Regions from separate parts of the Homo sapiens genome. Here region 1 is linked to region 2. The links come from fine-mapping of genetic effects on gene expression. A gene starts in region 2. The other region holds a variant in brackets. All regions are shown on one strand. Distances are between the middles of the regions.

What was found. PIP is the estimated chance that this variant, and not a neighbour inherited with it, causes the effect.
Region 1: its variant is the best candidate, but not a certain one, in a credible set for the expression of SLCO1B1 in iPS cells (PhLiPS, PIP 0.66).

Annotation. Positions count from the first base shown.
Region 1 is chr12:21,220,364-21,223,300 of GRCh38, forward strand. SLCO1B1 (solute carrier organic anion transporter family member 1B1) reads left to right here. Exons shown (of 15, transcript NM_006446.5): 13 at 1,937-2,001. Among named protein-coding and RNA genes, the nearest start is that of SLCO1B1, 91 kb to the left of the region's middle. The variant G/C (reference allele first, on the strand shown) is at 1,766.
Region 2 is chr12:21,129,461-21,132,397 of GRCh38, forward strand. SLCO1B1 (solute carrier organic anion transporter family member 1B1) reads left to right here and starts at 1,734. Exons shown (of 15, transcript NM_006446.5): 1 at 1,734-1,776.

The DNA of each region.
Region 1 (2,937 bases), 91 kb after region 2:
TATTTATTTTTATTTTTACTTATTTATTTATTTAGAGACAAGGTCTCATTTTGTTGTCCAGGCTGAAGTATAATGGCATGATTATAGCTCACTGTAACCTTGAATGCCTGTATTCAAGCAATCCCCCAAGGCGGTATTAAAATCCATGGAACTAATGAGATCTTCTAGGGACTGAGTACAGATAGAAACAAGATCCTAGGATCAGTTCTCAATCACTCTAATTTAAAGATCACTAATAGGAGAAACCAATAAAGAAAACTGAGGAGGTTTCATGAGAAAAACTAGGAAAGAGCGTTGTCCTCAAACTAATAAAGCATATGTCAAAAAGAGCATAAGTAACTGTGTCAAGGGCTGCTGAGAGTTCACAGGAGTTGAACCTGGGAGGCGGAGGCTGCAGTGAGCCAAGATCGCTCCACTGCACTCCAGCCTGGGAGACAGAGCAAGACTGGTCTAAAAAAAAAAAAAAAGAAAAGAAAACCACAAACCAATATCCCTGATGAACATATGAAAAAATTATCAATAAAACACTAGCAAATCAAATCCGATGGCACATAAGAAAAATTTTATAACATGATCAAGTTGTTTTTATTCTAGGGATGAAGGGTTGGTTCAACATATATAAATCAATAAATGTGATTTGCCACATAGAATAAACTAAAAACCAAAACCATTTGATAAGACAAAATTAAAAACAAAAACCATATGATCATCTCAATAGATGCAGAAAAATTATTTGATAAAATTTAACATCTTTCATGACAAAAATCCTCAACAATCTGGGCATCAAAGGAACATACCTCAAAATAATAAAAGCTATGTATGACAAACCCACTGCCAACTTCATACTGAAAGGAAAAAAGTTGAAAGCATTCTCCTGAGACCTGAAACAAGACAAGTGTGTCTATTTTCACTACTCTTACTGCACATAGTATGGGAAGTCCTAGCTAGAGCAATCAGGCAATAGAAAGAAAGAAAAGGTATCCAAATTAGAAAAGAGGAACTCAAATAAACTCTGTTCACTGATGATATGCAACAATAACAACAAAAATAGACTAATGGGACTTAAACTAAAAATTTCCTGCACAGCAATGGAAATAATCAACAGAGTAAACAGACAACCTACAGGAAGGGAAAAAATATTTACAAACAATACATCTGACAAAGGGCTAATATCCTTAATCTATAAGAAATACAAAAAAACTCATCAAGAAAAAAATTATTAAAAATAGGGTAAATGATACGACCAGCATGTTTCAAAAGACAAACAGTCAACAAACAACAAACATATGACAAAATGCTCAATATCACTAATCATCAGAGAAATGAAAATTAAAGCTACAGTGAGATTCCATTTTATACCAGTCAGAACGGCCATTACTAAAAAGTCAAAAAGCAAGATACTGGTAAGAATGTTGAGGAAAAGGAATGCTTATATACTGTTGAGAATATAAATTAGTACAACCTTTATGAAAAACAATGTGGAGATTTTTCAAGTATCTGAAAATAGAAGTACCATTTGACCCAGCAATCCAACTATTGGATATCTACCAAAAGGAAAGTAAATCATTTTATGAAAAAGACTCATGCTCTTTCACACTTATTATAACACTGACTAGACCACAAAAAATCAGTATCTTCAGAGGCATAATAAAGTCTGTTCTAACCACTTCCTCATAGGATTTTCATAAGTACCATATGAGAAAATATTTTAAGCCATCTTGAAATCATGATGCATTGAATAAATAAGGGAATAATTATTATTATT[G/C]CTCAAGTGTTTGCCTTTTAAAACAATTAAAATATAATTTTATATAATGGGGCCATTCAACTGTGAGCTTAATTCTATCATGGAGAAAAACAACACAGGAGAAGGTTTAATGTTGTTTCGTTTTGATATTTTAATGATATTTAATGTTTCTTTGCCTTTGTCTTGTTTCAGAATTGTTCAACCTGAATTGAAATCACTTGCACTGGGTTTCCACTCAATGGTTATACGAGCACTAGGTATGATGAAAAAAAAAAAAAAAAAAAAAAAAAATATATATATATATATATATATATATATATACACACACACATACATATATTAAATTTAAGTTATAAATATTAATGTCAAGGATTAAAGACTGTAATGAATCTTTAATTATGATAGTAAATAAAATTAGTATCCTTTCTATTTCTGTGATAAATAAAAACAATAAGAGACAGAGTAAAATTGAGTGATGGACCTAAAGGAGAATTCGATTGTTAATTATACATAAAGTCAATCTGTTAAGACTAAGGAATTATTGTATTTGTATTACACTCTTTCAAACACAAAGATAGATGGTCCTCCAAATTTTTCTTTTTTTTCAGAAAAATAAGAATATTTCCTCCCAGTAGGCAGAGTGAAGGGCCTAACTTCTAAACTGTGGCATGATTTAGGCAAGGCCTAAAGCTAGCTTGGGAAGCGTGGGAATCTGGTCAGAGAATCTGGCCAGGCTATGGCCAAATTACAATGAAGAAATTGTCTAAGAAGCGTATTTGATGATAAAGTCACAAATCCTCAAAGTTAAAAAAGAAGAAATATAAAGGGAATAGAAGAGAGGAAATGAGATGCTATAGTATTCTGTTGGTTTTCTTCCCTCCGTTCCGTTTTGTGTGTCTCTAATCTCCCAGACTCTGTACATTCTGGCAGGTTTCTACCTTCAGTTTCAATGGAGATACCTCTCTGCTAGAACCTGGGTGACAAAAGCTTAAAGTAACATCTGGGTTGTTAGTACTCCTTCTCATATGTAGAAATGAGACTATGAGAATGGAGTAAAATTTTTTTTAGCAATAGAAAATAGGAAAAAAAATGAGTTTCACCATTCTAATTCTGAGTATCCTATTTCGATGTATCCAATCTGTGGCACGATGGAACCTAAATGCACCTATGGAAAAAATACACATTTAGTACAA
Region 2 (2,937 bases):
CAGACTTCAAAGGCCATGATATTTCATCAGAGCTGTGATAGCCGTTCCTGAAAAAAATATCAGCTGATTCTTTAAATCAATTTTTGTCATCTAACTGATGCGTGGCTGTTAGCATAATATTGATCTTGAAAGATGTTTTGCAACATCTTTCCCCTGGTGTACTCTTGTTTTTCCATGATCCCACAAAATGAGCAGTCTAATTATTTACACAATTAGGAAGAGAAAAGGGGCACAGAGAATGCTCTTTGACCTCTGAAAATATTGGAGAATTTTACAACTGGCACCTTTAGCTCAGGATTATAAAGGTTGTTAGTTAGTTTGTACTGTTTTATCTTCATTGTATATAATATATATATTAGTCTCCAAACATGTTGATGTGTTTTCAATGAAATGGATGTCTGAGGAGAAAACCATTAGCCTGAGAAAACCCAAACTGTATTCCCATTGTGAATAAAAGGAAGTCCATAAAAATGATGGAAAATGTTCTGCATTCCTGTTATGATATCAAAATCTGGCAGTACATGAAAATTTTTCAAAGTGCTTATTTAACAGGCATAATCTTTGGTCTCCTGAGCCAGAATCTGCTGGGTATGGGACTGGATTGCTATTTTGACAACTCGCCAGTAGATTCTTACTCAGCAGAGTATTTGGAAGCCTTACTCTAATATTTTGGCCTTGGGTCTACATTTCTCAGTTCTGCACAGTCATTCTTCCCCTCTACACTACTCTTTAGTTTGTCTCATGATTCCAATACTCTCAATAATTAACCAAGAATAGAACTAATCAATCAGATAACTGTGGCACAGACATCAAATACATTTTGCTGCAACCATATCAACAAATGTCCCATGAATGATAAGGGGTAACCATATTCTCATATATGCATCCTCACATTACCACATATATATATGTGCATATGTGTATACAGGTAAAAGTGTGTATATATGTATACATGTATGTTTGTGTGTATATACATACATATATCTTCACACTTTTCTGAAATATATATATTTATGTGAGAGAAGGGTCTGTACTTTATTTCAGAAGAGAGCTTAATGTCCAAGGTATAATTGAGAGTCTAAAATGTTTGAGTTATTGAATTAATTAAACTTCATCTCTACTCAAGAAAACTTTTAACTGAGTTAAGCTCTTCCTTTCTCCACAAGTCAAGTCAATAAAAGGAAACTGTGATATTAATAATTCTTTCCTGTTTTGATGTAAAGAATCTATCGCATAAAGCAGTCTTAATTTTCATCATTCAGAAAAATGGTCTTGCAGTTAATTGGGACTCTCTTATTCCAGGTGGTATCTCCAGTCTCCATACATACCACGTTAGAACCATACTTATGTACCAAGCAAAGAGGGTATATTTTAATTTTTAAATGCCAATGTAACCTGTAGGCATATTTTTTATTTGTCTTAAATTATTTCCTATTTGGAAGTTTTAAATACCTGGAATAATTTATTGTACTCATATTTTTAAAGAAAAAAATCTTATGCCACCAACTTAATTGAATAAACAAGTAAAAGCCATTCCCAAAAGTAAGGTTTACTTGTTAAGATTAACAAAAAATAATGTGAGAATTCTGAGAAATATAATCTTTAAATATTGGCAACTGGAGTGAACTCTTAAAACTAACTAGGTTTTATATGTTTGACTAGAGCAATGACATAATAAGGTGGTTAATCATCACTGGACTTGTTTTCAAAAAGCCAACTACTTTAAGAGGAATAAAGGGTGGACTTGTTGCAGTTGCTGTAGGATTCTAAATCCAGGTAAGAACCATTGAGATTCTCTAATTTTTACATATATTTTATGTAAGAAATTTTCACGGAAGAAGATTTTGATGGTCTTGAAAAATATTACGAATTTTATGCTCTGTGTCTTCCACACGCTTACATTCTGAGCCCTTAAAACATAGTAAATATTCCTTCTGGGAGTAGAAGAGCCTCAGGTTTATATACTGTTAAAAATAAAGTAGAGAAAATAATACCTTTATATATTTAAATATAAAGTTTCAAATCTTGGTCTTATTAATTTCCAAACAAATAAAAATCAAGTCTCAAAAATGAAGCTCTAGTTACCTTCTTAAAATATGCTACAGGATAATTATTTTTGTCAACTACATTGACTGATCACACTAGACTCCTTATTTCTTTGATGTCTTCTTAACTGGATGAAGGCAGCCAAGGGTGGGAGTAGAGGGAAGAGTTAATTGGCAAACATAAAAAACAGGTGTCTCAAAGTCACATAACCACCTCAGTTTCCTTGTTTCAACTCAAGTTTGATACAGGGTGAAGGGAAATATATTTTCTAGATAATTTATCTCCAATTAAATAAGCAAAAAGTCTTCTCAGTACAGTTTTTTTCTTTTTTTATTTCATTATTATTATACTTTAAGTTTTAGGGTACATGTGCACAACATGCAGGTTTGTTACATATGTATACATGTGCCATGTTGGTGTGCTGCACCCATTAACTCATCATTTAACATTGGGCATATCTCCTAATGCTATCCCTCCCCTCTCCCCCACCCCACAACAGTCCCCGGTGTGTGATGTTCCCTTTCCTGTGTCCATGTGTTCTCATTGTTCAGTTCCCACCTATGAGTGAGAACATGCGGTGTTTGGTTTTTTGTCCTTGCGATAGTTTGTTGAGAATGATGGTTTCCAGTTTCATCCATGTCCCTACAAAGGACATAAACTCATCATTTTTATGGCTGCATAGTATTCCATGGTGTATGTGTGCCACATTTTCTTAATCCACTCTATCGTTGTTGGACATTTAGGTTGGTTCCAAGTCTTTGCTACTGTGAATAGTGCCGCTATAAACATACGTGTGCATGTGTCTTTATAGCAGCATGATTTATAATCCCTTGGGTATATATCCACTTATGGGATGGCTGGGTCAAATGGTATTTCCAGTTCTAGATCCCT